Homo sapiens: one gene and its partners. The protein of the gene in region 6 interacts with the protein of the main gene of each other region in a biochemical or structural test. Each region holds a gene or a part of one and is shown on either strand. Other genes may lie near its edges. The genes, in order: FOXO1, ELF4, PDCD4, TLE5, CDC34, SKP2 and ESR1.

Region 1 (4,067 bases), on a different chromosome or scaffold from region 6:
ACTGCAGTTTTGTGTTAGGCTTTCTAAGATAGCAGCTGTATTTGGCTGGAATTTCTCTGGGGAAGCCTGAATGATTTGCATTTTTCTGGAACACTCTGCCCTTGGAAACTACCCAGTTCCCTGGCATCATGGGAATTTACCCAGCCATTTTTTTGGCCTATATGTGCTGTAGCTTTGGGGCTTTTTGGGGATCCTCTTGGAAAGGCAGTGTAAATACCACATAGTGATTGGGGAAGGCAGAATTTTCAATTGTGTGGGAGTTGGTCTGCTTCCCTGCAGTTCAAGATTTGCCTTTGCCTTTGTAGCAACAACTTGCAGAGACTTGCCCAGCCCCCCCAGGATCTCCCTGGGGTCATATAACCAAGCACCTTTTCTTGGTACATAAAGAATTCTGATGCTTCTGGTGGTGTTCCTCAGCTGTGAAACAGAAGACCACATGTACTTGAAAAAGTATGTATTTTGATGCCTAAGGGATATGCTGTGTACAAATACTTAGAGTGTGGAAGACATCTTCCTCTTTGCCAGTTGCTGATGAGGATGAACAAAAATCAAGTCAGTGGCACAGAAATTCTTTTGTAGGTATTACTACTTGTTATTTGTAGTCTTCTAAGGAACATAGGAAACATGAAAAACACATTTTTGTACGTTGGCTATTTTATATGGTTCAGCCTTTTTAAAAACTTGCTTTATTCATTAGCATCCCAGTTTACTCTATTCCGTCTTCTCCCTGTGGTTTATCAACTTGTAGGTTAAGCACCGCCAATAGTTGAATCTAGGGTTGACTTATTCTTGCTACTTGGCAGGCATTTGGGCTACTTTTTTTTTCTTTCATCCATTTTTGTATAGTTTTGATAAAAACTAAAAAGGAAAACAAAAAAGCAAGTTAGTTTTGATATTAAGTCAAATACTACTAAAAAGGTAAATCTGCAGCTCCTCATCATACAATTTAGTGAATTTTTACCTTCACTTATTACTTTAATAAGGACATAAGTTCAAAATGTGTCCTTTATTTCAAGCCATATTCATTACAGGAAAAAAAAAAAATCAAGGGAGAGCTGTTTAGGGAATTAGCCTGTGTAGCCCCCAATTCTGGTTTTTGTTCTGATGATCCCTGAAGCTACACTCTTTATGAGAGTTGGGCGTGTGTGTGTCTAAGTCTTCCTTTTCTTTTCTTTTCTTTTTTTTTTTTTTTTTGAGACGGAGTCTTGCTCTGTCACCCAGGCTGGAGTGCAGTGGCGTGATCTCAGCCCCCTGCAACCTCTGCCTCCCAGGTTCAGGTGATTCTCCTGCCTCAGCCTCCCGAGTAGCTGGGATTACAGGCACATGCCACCACACCTGGATAATTTTTGTATTTTTAGTAGAGACAGGGTTTCACCATGTTGGTCAGGCTGGTCTCGAACTCCTAACCTCGTGATCTGCCCACCTAAAGTGCTGGGATTACAGGCGTGAGCCACTGGGCCCAGCCTAAGTCTTCCTTTTCTTTTCTTTTTCTTTTTTGAGATGGAGTCTTGCTCAGTCATCCAGGCTGGAGTGCAGTGGTGCAATCTTGGCTCACTGCAAGCTCCGCCTCCCGGGTTCACGCTATTCTCCTGCCTCAGCCTCCTGAGTAGCTGAGACTACAGGCGCCCACCACCACGCCCGGCTAATTTTTTTTTGTATTTTTAGTAGAGACGGGATTTCACCGTGTTAGCCAGGATGGTCTCCATCTCCTGACCTTGTGATCCACCCGCCTCGGCCTCCCAAAGTGCTAGGATTACAGGCGTAAGCCACTGCGCCCGGCCACGTCTTCCTTTTCTTAGCTTTGCTTTGAGAAATCGTTTCTTATCTTGGATTCCATTACAATGGTCCTCCTGCCATCTGGCTTCTCCAGTTGGTTCGCTTATTTTTCCTTCTCCTATCCTCATTCATAAGTATACCTCAGGACTAGTTGTGGACTTTTTCTCTGGTATTTTCTTAGGTAACTTACTCTCTGTTGCCTTGTGTATCCAGTTACCTAAAGGCTCTGGAGGTCCCACTTTTATCTCAAATCCAGCATGTCTAAAACTGAACATACTGTATTTCCCCCTGCCCTCAGATGGCTCATTTCAAGGTCCCCAGTTGGGTTAATGGTCTAGTTAGTTCTTTCCCTAGTTTTCAAACCTTGGTGTCTTCTTGAGCACTCTCCTGGTGTTTAGTGTTCCCAAGTCTGTTAACTCTTCTTTCTCAGGGTCTGTTGAGACTTTCCGTTCCTACCCGCTAACCATTCCCCTCGTTTAGCTTTTAGTATTTCAGGCCTAGACGCTCCTGTCCCCAGAGCTTAGATCATCTTGAGCCCTGAAATTCAGCAGATCTTGCTCAGTGTGCAAGGTTCAAGTCAGTTCACCAACTTCCAATCTTGGCTCCTACCCAGAGGAATTTTTGTCCTCTGAGTGAATATCTGGTAATCTTTTAATTCATGCTGCTGTGTATTATATATAATTTAACTTTAATGTCTGTATGTCTTGGCTTCTCAGTTACATTGTAAATATGTTGTTAGGAAAAAAATTCTTTCTTGATACATGGGTCTTTTATATTTCAGCTTCCTGTGTGTTGAGAATATCACAGTCTGTATCATGTGAGAATAATTTAAGAAGTAGTATAACTAAAGAACAGTGATTATTTTGTTTTCAACAGATTGTCAGAGTCCTTTTTTTTCCATTTATTTGTTGAATAATTACTGTGTACAAGATGTGCTAGGTGTTTTTGAGTGGTAGCAATGACTCAAAACATAGATCCAGTAGGAAGACTAGATGCAATGTGTAAGTAACTATGATATACAGTGGGAAGAGTTAAGTGTCTTAGAGAAAAATGAAGTTCTGTATTGGCCGTTGAACCAGGCTTTGAAAATGGGAGATTGGGCCTGGCACAGTGGGTCATGCCTGTAATCCCAGCACTTTGGGAGGCCAAGGTGGGCAGATCATTTGAGGTCAGGAGTTAGAAACCAGCTTGGCCAACATGGCAACACCCTGTCACTGCTAAAAATAGAAGAGATTAAGTGAGTGTGGTGGCATGCATCTGTAGTCCCAGCTACTTGTGAGGCTGAGGCAGGAGAATTGCTTGAACTTGGGGCAGGGGGTTGGAGGGGTGGAGGTTGCGGTTAGCCGAGATCACGCCACTGTAGTCCAGCCTGGGCGACACAGCAAGACTCCCATCTCAAAAAAAAAAAAAAAAGAAAAAAAAGGATGGGAGATTGTTCCCTTACGATTTCGCTATGAAAATTTTCAAGCATTCAGCAAAATTGGAAGAATTTCTACTACCTTTTCTACTAATGACATTTCATTATGCTTGCTTGATCATATATCTGTGTAAATGCACATCTTTCTGTCCATTAGTTCATCTTATTTTCAAGATATATTTTTGGGATGGTGGACTGGCATTCATAAAGGCCTGAAAATATGGGAAGCATCAGTTTCTCTGAGTGCGAAGTCAGGAGATTGAGACCATCCTGGCTAACACGGTGAAATCCCGTCTCTACTAAAAAGACAGAAAAAAATTAGCCAAGTGTGGTGGCGGGTGCCTGTAGTCACAGCTACTCGGGAGGCTGAGGCGGGAGAATGGTGTGAATCCAGGAGGCGGAGCTTACAGTGAGCCTGGATCGTGCCACTGCACTCCAGCCTGGGCGACAGAGAGAGACTCGGTCTCAAAAAAAAAAAAAAATTTCTCAGAGTGATAGGCATGTGAAATACACAAACAGTTTGAAAAGTATAGGTAGAAAGGACATATTATGAAAATAATGCTGTGTTATGGACCAAATTTATCAAATGATATCTTTGTTTTTGCCAAATAAGAAATTATGAAAATATGATTACATTAAACAATTTTAAAATGCAACTACTTAGGAACACACTTGTGTAAATATGGAGACCTATGGAATGCAATTTATAGCCAGTGTACTGCAGTTGATTTTGAAACTGACATACGGAATTTGGCAATACATAGAACAGATTATGTAATTGACTTAATGTGAATAGTTGGCATTTACAATGTATTTAGCTTTTTGCTTGATCTGTTCTTTAAAATTAACTTCAGTGAGGCCCAGTGTCCTGGTA
Region 2 (4,067 bases), on a different chromosome or scaffold from region 6:
TTCCAAGGGAGGGCGGGGGGCTCATCCCCCCAGCCCCAGACACAGGATACACCTGAAAATGCCTCATGTGGCTTGTACCACGAGGAGAGGAAACATCTGCAGAGCTGTGGGCACAAGCTGGCCCCAATTACAGCTGCCACATTTATAGCCCACTGTTGGTGGTAGGGAAGTTCTAGGCGGCACCCCAGGTAAAGGGCCACCTTGATTTAGTCCTTGGCTCATTTTACGACTCAAAGGGGCCTTAGAGATCATGTAGCCCCATTCCTGTGTTTTCCTGATGAGGAAACTGAGACAGACCCAGAGAGGGGAAGTCATGTGCCCAAGGTCACACAGCAAGTTGGTGCCCGGTACAAATAGGCACCCATTATTGGATCCTGGATGAATACTGGTGAGAGTCAGGACTAGAAATCTCTCAGATTTCAGCTTTATGGCTTGCCTTCCCTCACTGTACCACACCACCCCTTGGGAGAAGGCAATCTGGGGGAACCCTCCTGTGCATCTGCCTGAGGGGTCATTGGGAAGAGCCTGCCTTGGGGGCCCTCTGGGGAGTTAGGAGCCTGGTAGGATGGGCAAGGATCACTTATTTCTTTATTTTATTTATTTATTTATTTAGACAGTCTTGCTCTTGTTGCCCAGGCTGGAGTGCAATAGTGTGATCTCGGCTCATTGCAACCTCTGCCTCCCGGGTTCAAGCGATTCTCCTGCCTCAGCCTCCCAAGTAGCTGGGATTATAGGCATGTGCCACCACGCCAGGCTAATTTTTGTATTTTTAGTAGAGACGAGGTTTTGCCATGTTGGCCAGGCCAGTCTCGAACTCCTGACCTCGTATTCCACCCGCCTCAGCCTCCCAAAGTGCTGGGATTACAGGTGTGAGCCACCACACCCGGCCTGGATCACTTATTTCTAAAAGAGCCACATGCTGCATATCTCAGTCTTCCTGGGAGCTAAGCAAAAGAGCAGAGGGGCCTGAGAAAGGCACCCTGGCCAATATTATTCAGCCTGAAATGGAAATAAATTATTATTATTTTTTTGAGACAGAGGTTCGCTCTTGTCACCCAGGCTGGAGTGCAATGGTGCGATCTCGGCTAACTGCAACCTCTGCCTCCTGGGTTCAAGTGATTCTCCTGCCTCAGCCTCCTGAGTAGCTGGGATTACAGGCTTGCGCCACCACGCCCAGCAAGTTTTTATATTTTTAGTAAAGATGGGGTTTCACCGTGTTGGTCAGGCTGGTCTCGAACTCCTGACCTCAGGTGACCCACCCGCCTCAGCCTCCCAAAGTGCTGGGATTACAGGCGTGAGCCACCGTGCCTGGCCTGAAAATGGAAAGAAATTCTGACACGTGCTACAACATGGATGGACTTTGAGGACATCGTGCTAATTGAAATAAACCCATCACCAAAATACAAAAAGATAAAAGTCATATGTATATCGGTGGGTGTGGTGCATGTATACCTGTGTGCACACATGCCTGAGAAACCAATACATGGATTTCATATTTTTAAATGGAATTATTTTGTTGCCTTGAGTTCAGGCACTGGGGTTCAAACTTACAGATCTGCTTCTCATCCAGGATATCGCTGGGAGACTCCATATTGAGTAAGACTTCCGCGGTTGACATGGTGTGCGAGGTGGCCTCATTGTCATCTGGTCCGGGTTCCATGGTGGGAGGAGAGAAGAAAAGTTCCCTCAGGGCACAAGGCAGGGGGTACAGCTATAATCAGGGCCAGCCCGAAGAAAGGATGGTGGTAAGCATCCTTCGGGCTGACCCTGAAGTGAGTGCTAAGTGAGGGAGAAACAGGGGACCCTGACCAGAGGTACTGAGGGACAGCCAGGAAGGGCCCAGCACCCCTCCTTACCTAACTCTCCACCCCCTCAGCTGGTCTTCACTCCTCATTGTCCCACCCCACTTCCACAGACCATGAATCTACTAAGATGGTTCCCTCCTCTGTGAAGCAGCACAACTTTTTGGCTGGTGGACTTGCCCATTCTGCACGGGGTTACTAGAGGCCATTGTGGGCTGCTGTTCCCTAAAGACACAGCCCCTTTTTCTACCACACCTTCTCTGCCCAGGAAGGGAACAGACCTGTCAGCAAAAAACTGCCTTCCAGGATCTGATCCTGCGTCATGCACAAGGTCCCGTCTGTTATGATGCCATTGTGAACGTCGTCCAACTCCAGTCCCGAGTACAGATGCAGTAAATCAGGGTAGGGTACCTGCTCCACGATCACAGCTGGGAACACAGAGGGGTCTTCCAGCTATGGAGAAGACAGGGATGTGATTCAAGACCCACCCAGCTCTTCCAGCAAACCCTCCCTACCAGAATCTGGCCCTCTGTGCAAGTCCTTATTCTTGGGTTCATCAGGGACTGTCCTTTGTATAGGATGATATAACTCTGGGTCCAGCCTCATTAGGTGATGCTTTGAGTGGGTTCTTGATGAATAGATGGGTTAGCTCTGCACCACCAGCCCTTTAAGCATTTTTTTTTTTTTGAGATAGAGCCTCGCTCTGTCGCCCAGGCTAGAGTGCAGTGGCATGATCTCAGCTCACTGCAACCTCCGCCTCCCGGGTTCAAGCGATTCTCCTACCTCAGCTTCCCCAGTAGTTGGGATTACAGGTGTGTGCCACCATGCCTGGCTAATTTTTATAGTTTTTGTAGAGACAAGGTTTCATCATGTTGGCCAGGCTGGTCTCGAACTCCTGACCTCAGGTGATCCACCTGCCTCAGCCTCCCAAAGTGCTGGGATTACAGGCGTGAGCCACCATGCCCAGCCAAGGGCAAGCTTTTTTTTTTTTTTTTGAGACGGAGTCTCACTCTGTCGCCCAGGCTGGAGGGCAGTGGCGCAATCTTGGCTCACTGCAAACTCCGCCTCCTGGGTTCACGCCATTCTCCTGCCTCAGCCTCCCGAGTAGCTGGGACTACAGGCACCCGCCACCACACCTGTCTAATTTTTTGTATTTTTAGTAGAGATGGAGTTTCACCGTGTTAGCCAGGATGGTCTCGATCTCCTGACCTCGTGATCCACCCACCTCGGCCTCCCAAAGTGCTGGGATTACAGGCGTGAGCCACTGCACCCGGCCAGGCAAGTATTTTTAACTGGTTGTAGTTATGGTTTAACCCGTGGCCAGGTTAGGGCTCAGTCTATGAGGATTAGATTCATTCTAAGGCCATTGGGAATAGACCAGCTGATGGCAAGGGCAAGGGGCTCAACCTATAGTCGGGGGACAAGAGGGATTCAGTCTAGAGTCAGGGCTGGGGACCTAGTTCGCAGCCAGAGTTAGGGGCTCAGACATCTTCGGGCTCCGTCTGTGGCAATGATAGTGGGAATGAAGACAGAACAGAGGCATTATAGAAGTAGAAATGTCAGGACTCAGTCACTGCCTGGATGGGGGAGAGGGGTTCAATTTCCAGCTTCATTCAACAGGGACATGGAGATACTGCTCATGCCAAGGGAGGGCCCAGGAGGAGGAAGAGCAGGCTGTGGACCAAGATAAGGGCTACAATGTCTGGATGTGGTGAGCTTGAGGTACCTTTGGGACATCTGAAATAGAGACGCCTATCAGGGAGTCAAAAATAAGTGTCTAACAGTTCAAAAGGGAGCTGGTGGTCGTTCAATCCCTTGGAGTAGATAAGAAAATTGAGATGAGAATTCAACCCCTAGAGAACAGAAGTGTTTTGAAATTAAGCAAAGCGAAATTAAAAAGCAGTATGACTGCATGTGTTTTTTTTAAAAAAACTCCATATAGAGGCTGCATGTGGTGGCTCATGCCTGTAATGCCAGCACTTTGGGAGGCTGAGGCAGGTGCATCGCTTGAGCCTAGGAGTTCACACACCAGCCTGGGCAACACAGCAAGACCCTATCTCTATTTAAAAAAAAATTAAAAAGAAAAAACCTCTATAAATAAATAAATATGCCAGGATGTTAATCATAGTTTTCTTTTCTTTTCTTTTTCTGAGACAGAGTCTGGCTCTGTCACCCAGGCTGGAGTGCAGTGGCACGATCTTGGCTTACTGCAACCTCCACCTCCCAGGTTCAAGCAATTCTACTGCCTCACCTTCCCGAGTAGCT
Region 3 (4,067 bases), on a different chromosome or scaffold from region 6:
CTTTCCTATATGTATTTCATGCATGGAATTAAAACAGAATGTAGCCTTTTCAGCCATGAAGGATGCTGAGTGTTTAGATTTGCAAACCATTTTTGTTCATATATTTATATGAATCTCTACATATTTTTAAGATTTTTTTTTCATATCTAAAGTTGGCGGGAGTTATAGTGAAAAGTGATTATAAAGATTCACATATATTAATTTATTCTTAACAGAATTAGAGAATGATCTCACCATTTTCTTAAGTTCCCAAGCAATATGATAGCATATTAGTCTGAGGATTATACCATAGTAAGAAGCCTATAATTTTAACATAAGGTCCATTTGTTTTTGTTTCACAAAATAATACCGTTTTCTGAAGAAAAGGGCTATAAACTTATGTTAGCAAATAGTAGTACATAATGAGGAATTTAAAAGTCAGTTTCACCTTTGAGTCCCAGGAGGCTCTGTATATATCATTGTTATCCTAAAATGACATCTAACAGTAGGTTAAGTTATATAGGAAAAAATGTGCTTTTCTGTAATTAATTTATTAGGCATTTTCACTAATTTGTGCATTTTATATCTCTGAAGAGCACACTGCTAGCAACCTGATTGTAAATGACCAGAAGGACTTATATCCAACCTATGTGACTTAAACATACACTTAAGTACTCTAAACCACTATTTAAAAAATACTTCTAGAGAGATTCTGAAATCTTAATTTGGTTGCACTTTCTGGTAATATATTTTTTGAAAACTATTTTGATATTTCTTTCATATAACATTATTGGATCTGTATCACTAAGTTAATTGTCTAAAAGGTAACTGATTTCATCAAACCTTCCAGTATTAATAATTTTTAAGCCATTTTGAAACTGAGGCCTAAAATACTGAAATGCTTATGTCGTTGTACTTACTCCTTTCTGAAATGATCAGATTTTTAAAAAATGGATTTCTCATATAAATAATATTATCAAAAAAGGATTTCTCATATAAATAATATTATCAAAAAAGCTGATTTTAAAAGTTTCTCCCAAAGTCTTATTCTAGTAATTATAGAGACCTAGGTAATGAGTGGCAGATATATCTGCCTTTCAGATATGCCGTAATGTGAAAAATAACACAGTCATGTGATATTCTTTATTAACTAAAACTGTGTTGTTTTTATTTTGGAGTAGTTCTCATAATTCATTGGTAGGGAACTATCCAGTATTTATATTCCTATGTATGTATATCAGATTAATTTTGAGGCTTGGTATTCCTAAAAGATTTGGATGTGTGTATTTCTTTAACTTGACGTAAACATGTATCACAAACATATCTTTTAATTCCAATTAAAGGGGTGCTTTGGCACATGCTGAAATCTGGGATTTTTTTTTTTGACTTTGATAAATTTATCAAAAAGATTGGAACCAAATGTTAATTAGGGTAAGTTGTCTTTGAAAGTAAAGTGAACTGTTTTATTTAATGGAATTGTGTGTTTTTTGTTGTTGTCGTTTGTTTTTACAGTGTGCTTAAGTAAGTTTAATTCAGCTTAATTACATCAGTTTAAAAGATCTTGAAGCTTTCTTTTTTTCTTTTAAAAAAACAGATTCTGAAGGAAGATTTCCATTAGGTAATTTGTTTAATCAGTGCAAGCGAAATTAAGGGAAAATGGATGTAGAAAATGAGCAGATACTGAATGTAAACCCTGCAGGTAAGTAAGGATATCCTTTTTTCTTTTTTTCTTCGTTTTGAGACAGGATCTTGCTCTGTCACCCAGGCTGGAGTGCAGTGGTGTGATCATGGCTCACTGCAGTTTTGACTTTCCTGGGCTTAAGAGATCCTCCCCTATCTCAGCCTCCTCAGCAGCTGGGACAACAGGTGTGTGCCACCACACCAGGCTAATTTTTTATTTTTTGTAGAGATAGGATTTCACTATGTTGCCTAGGCTGAAATATCTTGAAGCTTGACTATGTTGTGAGGAAGCTTCAGACCATTCCATATTTTATAAAAACATGATAGAAAAACTATCTTTAAATACTCTTTTATTCATGCTGTAAGAAAACAGGCTATATTATTTTTAAAGTCAAGTTTGTGATTTTTATTTTCATGGAAATTCATTACATGTCCTATTTTTCTGCCTATCCTTTCACATTCCACATATTCCTATTCTCTGTTATATAGTACAGAATAGAGAAGAATAGTGAGCCTGCTTATTTTCACATGGGCTAGTTAGTGATTTCTGTAATATAAACTTACTGGTATCTTTGGTATCTTTCCTAACAAATAATTTTTATATTCTAAATTACCTAGGGTATTTTCCCTAATTCTCCATGGTGCTTCAATAGCATGTTATTATCATAAAAATGAACAGTTTTGTGGAATAGATGACCAAATGTGAGTAACTCAAGATAATTTAAAATGTATTTATAGTTTTAAAAATAATCTCCCAAAAAGTTAATTAGAATTGTGTAATATCTGAATAGTGAGAACAGTTCATATTGGTATACTTTGGATAATTCTTTGTCTTATAATTTTATTAATATTGAAAGCTATTTTCTGTCATTTTAAGTGTATTTCGTAACTAAATACTACATCTTTCTTTCCTCAGTGACTTAACTCACTATTGTTTACAATGTACATAGTTTTCTTTGATCTGAACAAACATGTTGAATTTGAAGCTTCTTTACCATTGTTTATTTACAGATCTTTTTAAAGTATGGTAAAAAATTGAAAAAAATTTATGTAATTAATGATCATTTCTGTGCTGCTGTATACAATAGCTGTATGAGTATGCTTTAGGGTTATAAATGGATAATATGTACCTACTTAATTGAGATGGGGATGGTAATACAGTTTAGAATATATTTTACATATAGGTAATTGCTTCTTTTCTGCACTGTCCAGTATGGTGACCACTAGCTACATGTGGTTATTACTCCTGGGCTCAAGTGATCCTCCCTCTTCAGCCTCCTCAGTAGCTGGATTACAGGCGTGTGCACCACTGTGCTTAGCCACATGTGTTTGTTGAGTACTTGAAATGTGGCTACTCTGAGTTGAGATGAAGGTCAACTATCTCAATAATTTGTTATATTGCTTGCATGTTGAGATGATATGGTTATATTAGATTAAATAAAATATATTTAAATTAATTTCACCTGTTTTTACTTTTTAATGTGGCTACTGGAAAATTTAAAATTTCTTATATGGCTTGCATTCTATTTCTATTAGAAATAGAAACACAGCTTTAAAATGTGTACTTTTTGTTTCCTAACTACAATAAGACCTAGTTCTAACCCTGTTCTTGGTGCTTGTGTCCAGCACTGCTTTAAAATAAAAGACTTGTTCTTCAATATTTGAATAGGCCTAAGATAGACCCTCTTTGTAGTAAATTCTTCACATAGCAAATAGTCCAAGTCACACTCTTACTCTTTTACTTGGAGGAAGTAGGTTATTCTGACCTTCAGTTTTTTCATGTATAAAATTGGGATATAAATACCCTCTGTATAGATTTATAATTAGGATTTAGTGAGATATTGTATATGTGTGTTAAGTCTGTGAAGCACATACTAGGTATGTAATACATGAAAGTGTGGTAATGTTATTCTAATTATGCCACTCATTGGACACCAGTAATTGAAAATGTGATTTTCTGGTGCTGTGGTCATATACAATTGGAGTGGTTACTATTGAGATATCAGAATTCAGAAAGAGGGAATTAGTACACAGTAGGAAACAATTTTGAAGTCAATCACATTCTGTACTCAGCTTATCATTTTAATTTTGGTTTTCTTAAAGTCAGCTCAATAGGGGTTATGGAACTCCAACAGTTAGGTGAGTATGAGTAACAAAATATAAAGCAATTAATACAAACATGGGTTAAAAATGATAAGGTCAAATATATAAATTATACTGAGAGAATGTTTACTGCTGCAGAGACACAAACATACTTGAAAGGATGTTAAAATTGTTGAAGAAAAGAAAACTCGATTATGGGAAATAGATGTATTTAAATTGAATACTCCAAGGGACAGTTTAAGACATTTTATTATAGTTCTGACTCCTGTGTCTTCTGGACCAGTTTTGTGGTTCACCTTAATGGC
Region 4 (4,853 bases), on a different chromosome or scaffold from region 6:
TCTTGATCACTGAAGGCTATCACCCTTACCTGCCAAGGTAAGGAGCCTGGGGTTCCAAGTCTATTTTACAGATGGGAACACCCAAGGCCCAAATCAATTGCATTCATTCAAGGGAGCAGGCTGCCTAGTGGATGACGATGATGAAGAGACTGTGTTTCGCACCTGCCAAAGGGGGACCTTAATGTCATAGCCTTATTTCAGTAGCCTCTTTGGGACCTGTTCTCTGCGTGGCAGAGAGAGGGATCCTTTAATAACCGCCACCAGGTCCCATCCCTCCTCTTCCCACGGCTCTCCAGGATTCCCACCTCACTCAGAGCAAAAGCCCAAGTCCAGGGCCAGGCGCAGTGGCTCACACCTGTAATCCCTGCACTCTGGGAGGTGGAGGCGGGAGGATCACCTGATGTCAGGATTTCAAGACCAGTCTGGCCAATATGGTGAAACCTGTCTCTACTAAATATACAAAAATTAGCCAGGCGTGGTGATGCGCACCTGTAATCCCAGCTACTCAGGAGGCAGAGGCAGGAGAATCACTTGAATCCGGGTGGCAGAGGCTGCAGTCAGCCAACATCACATCACTGCACTCCAGCCTGGGCAACAGAGTGAGACTCCATCTCAAAAACAAACAAACAGCTGATCACGGTGGCTCACGCCTGTAATCCCAGCACTTTGGGAGGCCGAGGCGGGCAGATCATCTGAGGTCGGGAGTTCAAGACCAGCCTGACCAACATGGAGAAACCCCGTCTCTACTAAAACTCCAAAATTAGCGGGGCGTGGTGGCACGTGCCTGTAATCCAGCTACTCGGGAGGCTGAGGCAGGAATCACTTGAACCCAGGATGCGGTGAGCTGAGATTGTGCCATTGTACTCCAGCCTGGGCAACAAGAGCGAAACTCCATCTCAAAAAACAAACCAACCAACCACCAGGTCCCGTCCCTCCTCCTCCCACAGCCTTCCAGGGCTCCTACCTCACTCAGAGCAAAATCCCAAGTCCTCCCCAAGACCCACAAGTCCTTGCTGGACTGGCCTGCTTCACCAGCTACAGAGTTAGCAGGGCCCAGTGCAAAAGAAAACTCAAAGGCCCCTTGTTCAAAAATGATTAGAAATCTCAAAATGCAGCAGTAAATATTAACCCAAGCACAAGCCCTGCTGTGGGGTGGGGGGGCCCTGGACAAAAGCACGAAGCCCCCGGCCCTGCCTCCCTCCGGCCTTCCTGACCTCCCCCCGGGCACTCTGCTGCCAGGCACAGTCCTGCCCCAGGGCCTTTGCACCTGTTGGTCCTGCCTCTGACTACCTCTGTACCCCATCCCCCTGTTCTCCCTCCTTCTTCAGGTCGCTTTAGGGGTGGAGGAAGCCGTCTCTGATCCTCCCTCCCACCTCTTTAACTTTGCACCTTCCTACCCTGCCATTCTCCCGGCTGGTTTTTCTGCAGAACTGTCCCCACCATCTGACCTGCCAGGAATTCAGCTTGTGAATTTGTCTCTGTCTGTCTCCAGGCACCACCACCAGGGCAGGGACCCACCCCCGCCCCGCCCCACCCCAGGGCCCTGGAGCAGCGGGGCCTGGCACACAGTAGGCGTTCTATAAATGTGTCACAAGAATGGCTTCCCTCAGGAAGGCGGCATTACCGCTGCCTTTCTGCAGAAAAGGAAACTAAGGCTCAGCAAGAACCACCGCCCAGCCAGAGCCAAGGTCACAGAGCACGTCCGTGGCACGCGTCCAGGTCGTGCCACAGCAGGGCCGGCGGCTTCGACGCGGGCAGCCGGGTCCCTTTTCTTTGACAGATGGGGAAACCGAGGCCCGGCCGGCTGCCGGGTAGGAGAGGGTGGCGGGGGCCGCTGCCCGGGGCGGGGGCGGGCCGGGCCCAAGGTCACCGCGGCGGGCGGGCCACGGGGAGGCGGGCCGGCGTGGGGATCCGCAGGCCTCCCCGGGCGCGCGCGTCCCCCCCCTCGGCGGCGCGCACGGGGCACGGGCGGCGGCAGGTGGAGCCGAAGCCTCCGCAGCAGCCGAGCCGCGGCCACTGCCGGCGTCGCCGCCATTAGACAATAGCGGTGGGGCCGGGGAGCGGGGAGGCGGGCGGCGGGGAGGGGCGGGGAGGGGCGCCGGGCGCGCAGGAAGCGGGGCCCGGGGCGCGCCGGGGCCGGGCGCGCGGGGAGGGGGCGCAGGAAGCGGGCGAGGCCGGGCGCGGGAGGCGGCGGCGGCCCCGGGAGCTGCCGATCGGCGCCGGGACAAAGGCGCGGCCGCCCGGCGCCCCCAGCAGCCCGAGCCGGGGCGCACAGCCGGGGCGCAGCCCGCGCCCCCCGCCGCGATTGACATGATGTTTCCACAAAGCAGGCATTCGGTAAGCGGGGCCCGTCCGGCCGGCGCCCCCACCCCGGATCCGGGCCCTACGCCCCCGACCCCCGGCTCCCGGCCCCGCGCCCCCCAACCCCCAGGCCCGGTGCCTCCGGCCCGGCGCCCCCCCCAACTCCCCGGCCCTGTCTTCCCTCTCCAGCTCCCAGCCCGGCGCGACCCCCCTCCCCTCCTGCCGCCGGCCCCCGGACACCCCCCCTCCAGTTCCCGATCCACCCCAGCTTCCGGGCCCCGAGCCCCCCCGCCGCAGCTCCCGGCTTGGCGCCCCCCCCCCCCAACCCGCCGGGACAGTCAGGGCCTCGGACGGCCTTGGCCTCGGGCCTGGGGCGCTCCGGAAGCCCCGCGAGGCACCTCTAGCCCGGGGATCCTTTGGGGGCCTGTGGTGGGGGGGGTGATCCGAGGCGCACCCCTCCCGGAAGAGCGTGTCCCCGAGGAAGGGCGCTGGGAATCTGGGGTTGGGCCCCCCCGGAAGATTTCGAGCACCGAGAGAGAGACCCCTCCCCCAAGAGGACTTTGCAGGGAGGAATCGCTGCCCCCCAACTTGGGGAGGGGGCTCCCTAGGGCGCGTTTCTACCCCCCTCGGATGTGCACTCCCTCCCGGCGCTTTGGAGGGCGGTAGAGGGCGCACCCTGCCCCCCATCTAGGGCGGGCCTTAAAACGCACCCCCACTGCCTGGGGGTGGCGGGGGACGGGGCGGCTCCGGGCGCACCCACCCGCTCGGCTTCCCCCGGGAGAGGCGGGGGGCAGGAAGCGCGGGTGGGGTCGCGCCAGGGGCCGTAAACACGGGCCCAGGAAGTGGGGCAGGAGGGGGGGCGCCGCAGCTGCGCGGCCGCTCCCTCCTAGCCGGCCCTTGAGGGGGGTCCAGCCCACGCCTGGGCCTGACCCGGGCCGCCCCATCCCTACAGGGCTCCTCGCACCTACCCCAGCAACTCAAATTCACCACCTCGGACTCCTGCGACCGCATCAAAGACGAATTTCAGCTACTGCAAGCTCAGTACCACAGGTGAGCTGGGGGACTGGGGGTCCCTGCGTCCCGAGAATGTGAGTCCCCCCATTTCTTCTGCGCAGATGGCAAGGCTGAGGCCTGGAGATTGGGAAAATAATATATGCTAGACTCTGACCTAATCACTTGACAAATACTGAATTCATTTATTTTAAACAGCCCCATTTTGTAGAGGAGAAAACCGAGGCACAAAAATAGTTAAATAATTTGCCCAAAGATTCAGCTGTGTGGCTTCAGAGCCCCTCCCTCCTCCCCAATACCCCCAAGTCCCCCATTGGATAAAAGACCTTCCAACAATTGGAGTTACGGCACGGACTCGCCATCCCTCAACCCCCAAAACAGAAACATTCTGCAGCCTGGTCATCTCTCTCTTTGCCCAGTTTTGGAGAAAGGGTTCCCAGCACCCGTCAGATTCTCCAAGGTGCTGCTTCTTTCAGAAATCTGGCGTTTCTGAAGAGCTTGCCACGCTGCGGTATCTAAGGGGAAGGAACTATTTAGTCCTCTTACACTTAAAGAAACTTAAGCCCAGGCCAGGCGTGGTGGCTCATGCCTGTAATCCCAGCACTTTGGGAGGCCGAGGAAGGTGGATCACTTGAGGTCAGGAGTTCGAGACCAGCCTGGCCAACATGGTGAAACCCCGTCTCTACCAAAAATACATAGTTAGCTGGGTGTGGTGGCGGGCGCCTGTAATCCCAGCTACTCGGGTGGCTGAGGCAGGAAACTTGCTTGAACCCGTGAGGCGGAGGTTGCAGTGAGCAGAGATGGAGCCACTGCTCTCCAGCCTGGGTAACAGGGAGACTCTGTCTCAAAAAAAAAAAAAAAAAAAAAAAAGAAAGAAAAAAAGAAACTTAAGCCCAGAGATGTTATGATGTTATTTCCTCGGGGGTGTCCATAGCATTGAGGAAGTGGCAAGGCTGAGGTTTGCACCAGGTCTCTCTCCTGGTTTAAGGATATAGGTTCTCGCCTGCCCTGCTCTGGAGGGGCACGCCGGGCCTGGGAATCTGGAGAAAGTCAGGCTATGCTCAAACCCCCGTTTGGCCTTGGGGCCCTCTCTAAACTGAAGCGTGCCCACCCCAGAAGTGTTCCTGGAAGGATCCTGGATTTCCTCCAAGTAGAAAGGGGAATCTCGATTTTGTTGTTGCTGCTGCAAATATCCCACCTTTTTGGGTACTCCCTGTGTGCTCAAGACCGTTCGTGCCTCCTCGTGCTTCATCCTTCCTGTCGTCCGACTGTCGTACCCATTCTCAAGCTGGGCAAACTGAGACACTGACAGTCGAAGGTGCTGGAGTCAGCTTTCCATGCAGGCCCCAGAAGCTTTTGTGCGGGTTCCTCGATATGAAGGGTTGGATACCGCCTGGTGAGCCCCGGGGCTGACCTGATTCCACAGGGAAGGGATCAGATGGCGGTCACAGTGCTGTGTGACCTCTGCTAAGCCGGAAGCCCTCTCTGAGCTTTGGGGTCTCCATCCGCTGGGCCTGGGCTTCCTGCTGTCCAACGAGGGA
Region 5 (4,067 bases), on a different chromosome or scaffold from region 6:
GGCCACGGTGAATCCGTCCACTCTGTGCTGGACGTGGCTCCAGGACCTGGAGCTGACAGGCAGGACCGGGCCCCTCGGACCGCTACACCTGGGCCTCCCAGGCTGGTAGTGTCAGGAAACGGCCCCCCGCCCACGTTCCCAGCAGCGCCCCCGTGGCTCCTCCGGGGTGCGGCCAGTCCGGAAGCTGGGGGACCCCGGTAGAAGTCGGGCTCAGCTCCCCTCCCGAGGGGACAGGTGGGCCGGCCGCTCCCACCCTGGGCCCGTCCACCGAGCCCCGAGTGACGTGAGTGGCGGTGGGGCAGCCCCTCTTCTCTGAAGCACGTGAAAACCCAGAACAGACATGGGGAGGGAGAAAAAGCCAAAACGAAACAACCAGAGGAGACGGGGACCAGCACAAAACCTCCGTGAGGTAGTCTGTCGTCTAAGGAGCCACGGGTCCGGCCCTAGTGAGGTAAACTCGGCAAGTTTATTCTGGTGGTGTCAGGACTCCTCCGTGCCAGAGTCATCCTCATCGTCCCCGAAGCAGCTGTCGGCCTCCTCCTCCACCTCGCCGTCCTCGTAGTAGTCGTCGTAGAAGAGGTCTGAGCCCTCGTCGGGCGCCGGCGCCTTGGTCTTCACGCAGTACTCGGCCAGCGTGGTGGGCACCTTCACGCCGTCACGCTCCGCGTCCACCTTGGTCCCCAGGACCTGCTTCCTGGGGGGACAGGGTGGGTGAGGGCGCCACCCACGTGCCTGGACTCGGCCCCTGCCCGGCCCCCCTCCCCCAGGTCCGACGCTCACCCCAACGCTCAGGTTTCTCTTAAAACGGCGTGTGGCGACCACTTAGGACAAAGCCCTGTGCGTGAGGAACTCCAGGGGGAGAAATGACAGAGGAGGGGGCTCGGGAAGGGCAGGAGGTGCGGGTGGGAGGCTGGACGGGCGCAGTGCAGTCACACCCGCCTGCCCCGCCCCGAAGCACAACCCAAGGGACCCATCAGGAGCTGGGAGAAAATAACGATGCCGGCAACAGGGAGGGCCCATGCTGCCCCACTGGGGGGCAAAAGCCTTCCTCAGCGCAGGAGCAAAGGAAGCAGCTGGGAGGGCCCAAGGACAGGAGGCAGGACCATCCCTGGAGACGGGAACCAGCACAGGTGAGATGGGAAACGCAAAAACGGCCTGAGCCTCTCCGTGGCCTCAGCAGGATTCTAAACCCGGGGGCCTGGCCACCCCGGCCTCCGGATTCTAAACCGGGGGGCCTGGCCATCCCAGCCTCTGGATTCTAAACCCGGGGGCCTGGCCATCCCAGCCTCCGGATTCTAAACCCGGGGGCCTGGCCACCCCGGCCTCCGGATTCTAAACGTGGGGGGCCTGGCCACCCCGGCCTCCGGATTCTAAACCCGGGGGGCCTGGCCACCCCGGCCTCCGGATTCTAAACCCGGGGGGCCTGGCCACCCCGGCCTCCGGATTCTAAACCCGGGGGGCCTGGCCACCCCGGCCTCCGGATTCTAAACCCGGGGGGCCTGGCCACCCCGGCCTCCGGATTCTAAACCCGGGGGGCCTGGCCACCCCGGCCTCCGGATTCTAAACCCGGGGGGCCTGGCCACCCCGGCCTCCGGATTCTAAACCCGGGGGGCCTGGCCACCCCGGCCTCCGGATTCTAAACCCGGGGGGCCTGGCCACCCCGGCCTCCGGATTCTAAACCCGGGGGGCCTGGCCACCCCGGCCTCCGGATTCTAAACCCGGGGGGCCTGGCCACCCCGGCCTCCGGATTCTAAACCGGGGGGCCTGGCCACCCCGGCCTCCGGATTCTAAACCCGGGGGGCCTGGCCACCCCGGCCTCCGGATTCTAAACCCGGGGGGCCTGGCCACCCCGGCCTCCGGATTCTAAACCCGGGGGGCCTGGCCACCCCGGCCTCCGGATTCTAAACGTGGGGGGCCTGGCCACCCCGGCCTCCGGATTCTAAACCTGGGGGGCCTGGCCACCCCGGCCTCCGGATTCTAAACGTGGGGGGCCTGGCCACCCCGGCCTCCGGATTCTAAACCTGGGGGCCTGGCCACCCCGGCCTCCGGATTCTAAACCTGGGGGGCCTGGCCATCCCAGCCTCTGGCAGGAAGGGAGGACAAGTTAGCTCAAACTTCCTGGAGGGCACCGTGTACACCCGGCCCTATGAGGGGCTGCACCGCGCACACCAGGACCTACGAGGAACCTGCCCCCGGCTCCACCTCCAGGACACGCGTCAAGAATGTCCCCCCAGGACTGGAAGCAAAGGGGCTTCCGGGGGTGGCACAGCAGGGCCAGGCGGCACGCTGACCCCATTTGACAGAAAACAGGAACGAGGCTGCAGCCGCAGGCAATGGGCTCGAGCCCCTATCACCGACCAGGCACGGCTCTGGGCTCTGGGGCTGGCTGCTACCAGGGTGTGCGGGTCCCACAGTGCCCGCATGGGAGGGCACCAGGGAGCAGACAGACAGCCCCAAGCCCAGCCCACAAGCCCAGTGCTTTTTATGGGGATGCATGACGCGTGGAGGGCAGGCGTCTGGCCTCAGGGACGTCCCTGGGTGGCGGGACCCAGCGGACGCCAAGCTTTGCTTTCCAAGCTCTCCGATGGGCTGGGGGGGTGACTGACAGTGCCCCGGGGACGGCACTGCACGGGTGGCAGCAGTGGGGAGACGCAGGGGAGGGCCAGGGTGGACGGGCTGGGGGGGTGACGGTGCCCCGGGGACGGCACCGCAGAGGTGGCGGCTGTGGGGAGACGCAGGGGAGGGCCAGGGTGGGAACTGACCTGCACCGTGGAGGTGCCGCCGGCACACCGCCAGCATGAGCTGGAGGACGGTCTGGAGGTCCTGTTCAGCAAGACCAACATCCCTGACCAAGCCGGGCTCCACGGCAGCCTGCCCGACACAGCTCAGCGGGACTTGGGCTGCCACGAGGCCAACACGCACACAGATGAAAAAACAGGCAGAAACGGCGACCACAGCAGAGTCCACATGGCACATGTGTGTTGGCCCACAGGGAGTTTTGAGGGATAAAAATAGTGTGGCTTTTATTTCTGTGCTGGGATCTCAAGGAGGTGGTGCCTCAGGGAGGTGGCCGGGAAGAACCGGGCCAAGGAGCCAGCCACCTGGGCCAGGTGACACGACCGGACCGGGGCCACCGAGGACATCTGCACCAGAGGGACGGCCAGGGCAGCTACCCTGTGACCTCCAGAGGCCAGCAGGTGCTTGCAGGCCACTTCCCAGGAGGCCGCACGGGGCCCGCCCACCATGGCTGCTCAGAGCCGAGACCGCCCAGCACCAGGATGCTGCCCCGAGATGACCCCACGACACCAGGTACCAGCGAGTGCAGGATGGAAGGTGCCCTGGATGCTCCTGGGTCCTGGGGCGAGGAAGACACATGCATTATGTGTGCAATATTTTAAAAGTTGTTTTTAAGATTCTGTTTATACAAAATACCAACAAAAATAGGTGAGGCCTCTGTGAGGAAATCTATGCAATATCACTCTGAGAAAAAAAAAAAATGGATAGGAAGGGCCTCTATGTAACAGGAAGAGCAGGAACCATTAAGGCCGTCAACCCGTAAAGAAAGCCTTGTCTTTGTACACAGACACGCACGTGTTTACACATTCATGTGAACACAGGCACCCAAGAGAAGGGGCTGTGGGGCTCAGCTCTGGGGCATGAGGGCGATGGGAGGAGAGGGAGAGCCGTGGGTCACCACACACAGCCACGCAAGCTAAGTGGACTGCAGGTACAGAAGGCGCCGGTAGGCGACTGCACAGCTGTACCCAGAGCTCACCAGGCCAAGAGCCTGCAGGGACGCACTCCAGACATGAGTAAGGCCAACACCCCTGACTAACAGTCAGTCACTGGGCACACACAGCACGACCCCATTTTTTCATTAAAGCACAGACACATGTTCCCTAACAGTCAGTCACTGGGCACACACAGCACGACCCCATTTCTTCATTAAGGCACAGACACATGTTCCCTAACAGTCAGTCACTGGGCACACACAGCACGACCCCATTTCTTCATTAAAGCACAGACATGCGTTAAACTGAAAAGCCTGGAAGAATCTATGAAAACAC
Region 6 (4,067 bases):
GTAAGTACAAATTTTGAAAAGGTGAGAATTAAACCCGGACTTGCTATGGAAACAGAAATCAATCAGGGCTAGGGAGTGAGTGGAGGAGGAGAGAGAAAATAAAACAAAGATGCTATCAATGGGTTCACCACCAAATGGAAGGAGCAAGGTCCTAGAAAACACACATACTCAGCTAGCAGCCAAGTACCCAGTGCTCTTACTCAGCTGACCACAGAATGACACTAATCCTAGGGGCCCCGGGTGGGGGTACCACAGCCTGATATGGGCTGCTGTCCCAGCAGATGGGGCAGAAGTTTGTCTTTAATAGCTGCTCTAGCAATAGGCATCCAGGCTGTGATATGCTTAATCTAATTTTCCTTGCCATATTTAATTCTCAAAACATTAGCCATCTGTTTCCTGAATTCATGATGAAACTGCTGCCTGGTCTGTTTGCAGAGAGCGGAAGGAAAAATCCAGAGGTCTTTTCTCCACTTGTCTCTGCTAAATCCAGCAAGGCTGTAGCTGCATACCAGACCCACATTAAAAGACATAATTACTGAGCCCAAGGTCTCCAGTCTTCAATGACATGGACGGCAGTTAAATATACTTCAGGGCCAGGAAAGGGCAAAAACTGGGCCAAACCAGCAAACCTACTACAATCACCCTCACCTACCACTGTTTCCAATTATTTCTCAGGTGCAAACCCAGTTTCCCACTTCTGTAACCTTATCACATCTCATGCTTCCTGAAATTCTCTGGGAAGAGGGCCTTGTTGGAGAGTTTTCTATGCATTCCATCTTTGCAGTGTAGGTAACTCATCTTACTTGACATATTTATTTCTCAGAATATCACTCCACTCATTTATTTCTCAGAACATCACTCCACTCCACTCAGATTCAAGCTGAAAATCCAAAGTAATGCTAATCATAATCAAACTTTTGACTTAAAAAATTGCTGCTCTTTAAGCATAATCAGATTATACTTGCAGAAATGTATACTGAGGACCTGGTACTCATACTTGTTTTTGTGTGTGTGTGCATTTCTTTCAGGGAGTTGGGGGGTGCTCACCTCAGAATTGCTTTTGCTGGCTTGTTTTAAGTAGCAATACCCCATGCTTTCTTTCTGGGGAACTACAAACAGATTGTGCCATCCCAGATGAGTTCTCCTTCCTCTTCCCACAAACCATAAATAATACATTTGAGGCCATGTTGGCTTTGGGTGTTTTTGTTTTTTTGGCTAAGGTGGGCAAAACTGAAAAAAACAAAACACAGCCAAACTTAACAAGGATTCCCCCATGTACCCCTTCAGTCCCACAACCCTTTATTTCTATGAAAGACTTGCTCAACCCTGAGGTGTAGGGGGTGTAATGAAGAAACAACAGAAGCTGGGATTTGGAAAAAATATGGAACAGTGTATAAGCACTATGAGGGCAGGGTCTCTTGCCTGTTATGTTCAGTATTGTAGTCCCAACCTCTAAAACGGTGCTTGAGAAATATTTGCTTAATGGATGAATGAAAGGAAGCTATGGAACAAAGAAAGATGACTGGGAAGATCCCATAAAGGCTCTTCCAGTGCTGAGTTTAGTAACTGTAGACTGAGACTCACATAGATCATGAAATCAATTTAGTGGGTTTGACTAGCATATATGTACATATAAAGAATGAACTAGAACAGAATAGAAAATATCTTAGTAAGGGGAAATACAGTTTTGTAAAACTGCTGTTTCAGATACATACCCAGGATTGCAATGTAAAATATGTTTCTTACTGGTTAAAAAAAAAAAGTTGGAAAAAATGCTTGCCTAAGGGTATTAAGACACAGATTCCCAGGCTCACTCAGGCCAGGACTCCCCGGATCAGAATCTCAGGAATTTTACACTTTGAACAAGTTCCTGTGGGGATTCTGATATACAGTAAATTTTAGTATCTCCAGTCTGACAACCACTTTAGGGTCTGGAATTTCAAGCATTTAAGAGTCATGGAAGAGCTGATCAACAAATTAGTTCACCTCCATTTTCATGGCTATCACCTGTTTAAAGGGTGGGGTGGGGGACAAGCATTTCATGACCATAAATAAAATGCAATTGTCCCCTTTCCGCCTGTTACTGACCTCATTGCTGGGCCATTTCCTCCCCAACTCTTTCCATACACTCACTCCAAGGGCCAATCAGACCTGTTCTAGTACAGGTTGGCCACAGAGCTTTCATCTTCCCAGATAAACGGATGAAGAGGATTTAGTTGCCAGATGTACGGCTGGACTGGGGCCTGCAGGGAGAAACTGCTTAGCAAAGAACCAACAAAAACTTGCAGCCCAGAACCAGTCATCAGATATCTATGTACAGCAGGTGTGGCCTGTTCTACCCTAATCCTGGCAAAGCTAGTAGCCACCTGTCCTGACAACTGCAGACAAAACTCCTTGGAATGACAATCCGGCTCCACTGGAGGCCCAGGCTTCCAAAGGCCCATTGGGAATCCTCTATACCAGCTGTCCCTCATCCTGCATCACTGATTTCACCCTTCCCCACTCCACACCAATTAAGCAATCTCTGTTGTAAGTCCACGTACATTGGTTTCCCTCTGTGCCTCTCCTTAGGTAATAAACATAAAAGTCACCATTCTTTCTCTCTCCCTTCAGATATATACTTTTGAAGTCAGCTTTAACCATCAAGACACTGATTACACCATTTTCAGAGCCCTCTCTTTCCTCAGAATCTCCTTTCTTGCTGAGTGGAAGGAGGAAGATCTTCCACATCCACCTGAATGGGAATCACAGCTCTTATTTTTTATTGTATTTTCTCCTCAACTTGACTTGCAAATTCCTGGGAAATAGCAAAGACTCCGGAAACTTCTGTCTTGTTCCCACAGTGCCTTGCTTAAAAAAAATTCTTTTTCACTTGTGGAAGGGCATATAGCAATCACACTCTATGTCAAAAGCTATCGGCACTGGACAGGTTAATAAAAATCTGTTCATCTTAGCAGGAAGTATCTTTCGCCATATTTGGTTGGTCAAGCACCAGATTGTTAGGGCTACATTCCAGACACAAAGAAGAGCGGTGAACATTAAATTTTGAAGAAAAAAAATTTTATACTAACAGGGTCAGAGTAACAATATTAAAAACAAAAGATAAAAGTCCACTAGCCTCCAAAATTGGTGTCAGGAATTTTGTTGGCTTATGTATTGTTACGTGTCAGTGGCATGCTAAGGGTTTTACGTCATTCTCATTTAATCTTCACGACGACCTGTGAAGTGGGTATTATTACAGCACTCCATTTCACAGATAAAGGAACTAAGGCAAAGAAAGCTCGAATAACTTTCCAAGGCTGATAAACGCAAGAATGAGGATTCAAACCCAGATCTGACTTCACTACAACCCTCTACTGCTTTTCTAACTAATCCAATTCCTGATGTATATTCCCAGACCATAAATTGGGCAAAGTTCTCTTTCCTAAAGAAAAGGCTGAAAACAAACGTATTTATTTTCTTAATTAAAAGTGGAATGCATCTCGAATCCGCATGTCTTCCTGCGCAGGGGCCATGCTAATCTTCTCTGTATTTCCAGTTTCAGTATATGTGCTGCCAAAGCGAGCAACCAACCAATCAACTAAACAACCAATCTATCAACCCTTCTGCAAAGGAAACCAGATGGGAGAATTTATGAATATACTTAAATTACCTTGGGTCTGCAAGACTTCATCTTTAAATGTTTAATCTGTTTCTTCTTCGCCATCATCCCCCACCTGATTTCAATTTAGACTCTGATCACCTCTTCCACAGATGATTTCAACAGCCTCCTAAATTCTGTTGACTTTAATGTGGGAATATATCCGGAATCTGACCACCCTCACCCCCAACAAGACTTCAAGCTTTGGCCAGGTGTGGTGGCTCATGCCTGTAATCCCAGCACTTTGGGAGGCCAAGGCTGGAGGATCGCCTGAGTCCAGGAGTTTGAGACCAGCCTGGGCAAGATGGTGAGAACGCCCCCGCAACCTCCATCTCTACAAAAAATAAAAAAATTGCTGGGCGTGGTGGTGCATGCCTGTAGTCTCAGTTACTTAGGAGGCTGAGGCAGGAGAATCGTTCGAATCCAG
Region 7 (4,067 bases), on a different chromosome or scaffold from region 6:
TGTTATTTAAAAAACATAGCCCACACTGAATATCTGATATAGACAATATAACGTTTATGAGATAATAGTTTGAGAATGACAATAATAATAGTAAGTTTTAAAAGAGGAAATAAGCCGGGCACAGTGGCTCATGCCTGTAATCCCAGCACTTTGGGAGGCCGAGGCGGGTGGATCACCTGAGGTCAGGAGTTCAAGACCAGCCTGGCCAACATGACAAAACCCTGTCTCTACAAAACAGTACAAAAATTAGCCAGGCTTGGTGGCACACATCCATAGTCCCAGGTACTTGGGATGTTGAGGTGGGAGAATTGCTTGAACCTGGGAGGCAGAGACTGCAGTGAGCCGAGACCCCACAACTGCACTCCGGCCTGGGCAACAATGAGACTCTGTCTCTAAATAAATAAATAAAGAAGGAAATAGTAAATGTCATTAGTAAGAAGAATAGCAAAATTTCAGTTCTAGAAATACCCAGAATTAGCTATATGATACAAAAACCCTCATGAAACATTTGGATAATCCTCAGAATACCTATCAATATAACAAAAACTATGAATTGACTTCATTTTGAATGATGAATTTTTAACAAAAATAGTCAATACTTTGGGCTTAGTAGCTCTAGAAGTGCTTCTTTCTTCTTTCTTTTAATTAACAGAATATTGTCAGAATTTTCAAATGTTGATGATTATAAGTTGAATTTTCCTTTTCATTAACCCCTGGGGCTTATTTTTTGACTTGATATGTTTCTCTACTCAGAATTAAGATGTGAAGAGCTTTGGGATAGAATGCATCATACAAGTGTGAGAGTCAAGTTCCAATCCATAAAGTACTTCTGGTAGACCTGGATAAAGATGACCTTAAGAAATGATTTTTTTTCTCTTTGCAGTTTAAAAACAACAGTAGCAACAAGAATGATAAAACCTATGAAGCCAGCTCTGACAAAAGATGTTTTTTTTATAACACATACTATGTATCTACTTTTTGATATTTATCTATCGAGAAGACTTTTCTCCTTATTGTTTGCTCTGAAATTTGTTTATATTTAATAGGAATTTTATAGCCTTATCCCTGGGTAGAAATTCAGTTTTTTTAAAAGTAGATAATTAAATCTTAATTTACTATTATTTTACACATGGTGAAACTAGTCAATAAATGTAATATCATTGAGCTGAAGGTTAAAAAGGAAAAAATATGACTGCAAGAGTGGTTGTATTTTTGATTTCAGCATCACACTCAATTGCATCATTGAGTGGTTCATTCTTAGTTTCAGTGTTAATGAAATACATCTGAGTTTTTTTCCCCAGAAGCTTGAATTGTGTCACCAAAGTGTCATTTTGATTTATTGAAAGTTAAGCCCTTTCCAAAATTCACCATAATTTTACATGTCTCGAAAGCAATTTTATACTTCAAGTCTGTGCTATAGTTCTATATATTTTATGAAGATTTGGATAGATATCTAGCCCTGAGTTTTTTATTGCCTGTTAAATACTTATAACCCAAAGTGTAGCAGCCTCATGAACTGCTGCTGGGCACAGATCTGGGAGAGTGCACTCAGAGTGTTGGCCCAGGAAGAGGAAAAGAGGAAAAGGGGCAGTTCAGTGGCAGCTTGGCTTCCTGTGAAACATGTCACCTTAACCACTTCCTCATTCTTTTAGTGGCAAACTAGACGACCTTCTCCTTCCCCTTTCCTGCCGAGTCCCCCTCTAATCAACACTCTAGAAGGCCCCTCTTCCTCCTCAGTCCTGACTCCCTGTCATTTACTTCAGGTTGCCTCCTTGCTCAGTTTTGGCCCCAGGGGTAGGCAATCTCCTCTTTCTGGACATGTCTCCCACCAGCCCCAAGTTCAGATTTCTTGGAAGTTTCTGTGTTGTCTCGAGGATGCATGGTTGTGTGAGTTATTCCAGGGCTCAAGGCCTCTTCTGTGTCTGTATTCCCCAGGAATCCAGGAATTCACTTCTCTGCCTCTCATCCTCATCCTCATCATTAAAATGAGCAGATTTGAGCTCAGGAAGTGCTTGAATAAATGAATAAATGAACAAATGAAAGGTGATTTTTGAAAGTCTTAATTTTAAGAAGTCTCTGAGCCCTGTTACAGCTCAATTTTCCCATAAACTAGAACTGCTCTCTAAGGCTGTGACATTTCTCCTTTTTCCTCTCCTCAAAATCTACCTGCTGTTCTGATATCTCCCTGACAGCCACCATAGTGAGATTCTATTTCCATTTCCAATCTCTCTTTTGTAAGGGACAGAGAAACAGCTAGAGAAATATGGAGCCATGCGCTCTGAGGACTTTAGCAGGCTTCAACTCTATCTGCAAGTGAGTTTCACTTAGCGAATGAAATTGGAAACTTAAAGTGGGTAGGGATGAGGGTTCCCGGAGAAGGTGTAATACCTCAGTCTGGGAATTGGGAGCATCTACAAGGAACACACTCAATTCTGGGAGGTTCCTGTAGATTTCAGAGATTTAGCAGGGCTTCCCAGCACTCTGCTTCCCAACCTGTCATTGGACCAGTAAACCCTGCTCTCAAACTGTTGTGGTGTCCAGCATGCTTTGGCAAGGTAATGAAAGATAACATGACATGGACATATGGGTGACATCCTGGAGAGATGACAGAAGCCTCTGTTTAAGGACAAGATTTGCCATTTAGATTTTGCACCCACTGTATAATAAGAGCCTTAGGATTGGGCTGGAATCGCCCTAGCAGGCATGATGGCAGCCCCTCTGGACTGGCAATATGCAGCTTTTTTGCAAGTGTTCCATGTCCAAGTCACCCCACCCAGCTTTCTACTGCTCCCGTGGAAGCTCTGGTGAAACGCAAGGAAAGCAGCTGCTGTTGACTGGATTTTTCTTTCACATGAAACTTTGAAGCCTCATAGATGCTTATTGGCCTGGATGCTATTAAACCTTTAAAAATCCCTTTCTCATCTTGAGAGTATTTGAGAAACATGTCTGGGGCATTTTGCCCACCCTCCTCCAGGTTCTGTGTCAGTGAGTGATATGGTTTGCCTGTGTCCCCACCCAAATTTCATCTTGAATTCCCATCTGTTGTAGGAGAGACCCATGGCAGGTAGTTGAATCATGGGAGCAGGTCTTTCCCATGTTCCTGTGATAGTGAGTAAGTCTCAAGAGATCTGATGGTGTTAAAAAGGGGAGTTTTTCTGCACAAGCTCTTCTTCTCTTGTCTGCCACCATGTGAGATGTGCCTTCCACCTTCTGCCATGATTGTGAGGCCTCCCCAGCCACAATGGAACTGTAAGTCCATTAAGCCTCTTTCTTTTGTAAATTGCCTACTCTGGGATGTGTCTTTATGAGCAGTGTGAAAACAGACTAATACAGTGAGTCTGGGTCAGTGTGTGTTTATGTTGAACGTAGTGGACTTGTGGTGTCCCCAGGGCACCCTGTGGGGAATGTTGGCCTGTGGCTTTGCTACTTCCAGGGGGATTTGGCATGGAGAATGTGTGTTTTAAGTAATAGATAGATTATGATTGAAGTGTGTTATGGGCTGAGTTGTCTCTCCTCAAAAAGACATGTTAAAGTCCTAACCCCCAGTATCTCAGAATCTGACCTTCTTTGGAAATAGTGCCTTTATATAGGTAATCAACTTCAAGTGAAGTCATTAGCACAAGCCCTAATCCAATAAGGACTGGCATTCTAATGAAAGGGGAAATTTAGACATAGAAACAGACATGCACAGAAGAAGATGATATGAAGAGACACAGGAAGAGGACGGTCATGTGACTGGAGTGCTGGGTCTGCAAGCTGAGAAATGCCAAGGTTTACTGGCTAACATCGGAAACTAGAAGGGGCAAGAGTGGACTCTCCCCCTCAGAGAGAGTATGGCCTTGATTTCAGACTTCTAGCCTCCAGAACTGTGAGGCGTACATTTCTGTTGTTTTTGAAGCCACCTAGTTTTTGATACTTTGTATGGGAGCCCTAGGAAATTAATACAAAGTGTATTAAAAATAGAATTTTCTTCTATTGTATTTTTGAGGCAAAAGAAATAAGGAGCTATTGATTTAAGGAGGAAGGTTTGGCTCATCTAGTATAGACTTGGCTAATCATTTACTCTT

What was found.
Region 1: the proteins of SKP2 (region 6) and FOXO1 form a complex in vitro, tested with the Homo sapiens proteins (one study listed by BioGRID).
Region 2: of the proteins of SKP2 (region 6) and ELF4, one has a biochemical effect on the other in vitro, tested with the Homo sapiens proteins (one study listed by BioGRID).
Region 3: of the proteins of SKP2 (region 6) and PDCD4, one has a biochemical effect on the other in vitro, tested with the Homo sapiens proteins (one study listed by BioGRID).
Region 4: the proteins of SKP2 (region 6) and TLE5 form a complex in vitro, tested with the Homo sapiens proteins (one study listed by BioGRID).
Region 5: the proteins of SKP2 (region 6) and CDC34 form a complex in vitro, tested with the Homo sapiens proteins (3 studies listed by BioGRID, with this or other methods).
Region 7: of the proteins of SKP2 (region 6) and ESR1, one has a biochemical effect on the other in vitro, tested with the Homo sapiens proteins (one study listed by BioGRID).

Annotation. Positions count from the first base shown.
Region 1 is NC_000013.11:40,656,442-40,660,508, reverse strand, and holds part of FOXO1 (forkhead box protein O1), read left to right. Parts: intron 1-4,067. UniProt on the Homo sapiens protein: Transcription factor that is the main target of insulin signaling and regulates metabolic homeostasis in response to oxidative stress.
Region 2 is NC_000023.11:130,072,498-130,076,564, forward strand, and holds part of ELF4 (ETS-related transcription factor Elf-4), read right to left. Parts: intron 2,256-4,067; coding exon 2,084-2,255; intron 1,712-2,083; exon of another isoform or gene 1,661-1,711; coding exon of another isoform or gene 1,645-1,660; coding exon 1,552-1,644; intron 1-1,551. UniProt on the Homo sapiens protein: Transcriptional activator that binds to DNA sequences containing the consensus 5'-WGGA-3'. Transactivates promoters of the hematopoietic growth factor genes CSF2, IL3, IL8, and of the bovine lysozyme gene.
Region 3 is NC_000010.11:110,874,393-110,878,459, forward strand, and holds part of PDCD4 (programmed cell death protein 4), read left to right. Parts: intron 1-1,573; 5' UTR 1,574-1,635; coding exon 1,636-1,678; intron 1,679-2,277; exon of another isoform or gene 2,278-2,351; coding exon of another isoform or gene 2,352-2,361; intron 2,362-4,067. UniProt on the Homo sapiens protein: Inhibits translation initiation and cap-dependent translation. May excert its function by hindering the interaction between EIF4A1 and EIF4G. Inhibits the helicase activity of EIF4A. Modulates the activation of JUN kinase.
Region 4 is NC_000019.10:3,059,658-3,064,510, reverse strand, and holds the start of TLE5 (TLE family member 5), read left to right. Parts: upstream 1-2,015; 5' UTR 2,016-2,310; coding exon 2,311-2,337; intron 2,338-3,253; coding exon 3,254-3,351; intron 3,352-4,853. UniProt on the Homo sapiens protein: Transcriptional corepressor. Acts as a dominant repressor towards other family members. Inhibits NF-kappa-B-regulated gene expression. May be required for the initiation and maintenance of the differentiated state.
Region 5 is NC_000019.10:537,966-542,032, reverse strand, and holds part of CDC34 (ubiquitin-conjugating enzyme E2 R1), read right to left. Parts: intron 3,356-4,067; coding exon of another isoform or gene 3,043-3,355; exon of another isoform or gene 2,997-3,042; intron 695-2,996; coding exon 481-694; 3' UTR 1-480. UniProt on the Homo sapiens protein: E2 ubiquitin-conjugating enzyme that accepts ubiquitin from an E1 ubiquitin-activating protein, and catalyzes its covalent attachment to other proteins by an E3 ubiquitin-protein ligase complex. In vitro catalyzes 'Lys-48'-linked polyubiquitination.
Region 6 is NC_000005.10:36,154,620-36,158,686, reverse strand, and holds part of SKP2 (S-phase kinase-associated protein 2), read right to left. Parts: intron 1-4,067. UniProt on the Homo sapiens protein: Substrate recognition component of a SCF (SKP1-CUL1-F-box protein) E3 ubiquitin-protein ligase complex which mediates the ubiquitination and subsequent proteasomal degradation of target proteins involved in cell cycle progression, signal transduction and transcription.
Region 7 is NC_000006.12:151,946,924-151,950,990, forward strand, and holds part of ESR1 (estrogen receptor), read left to right. Parts: intron 1-4,067.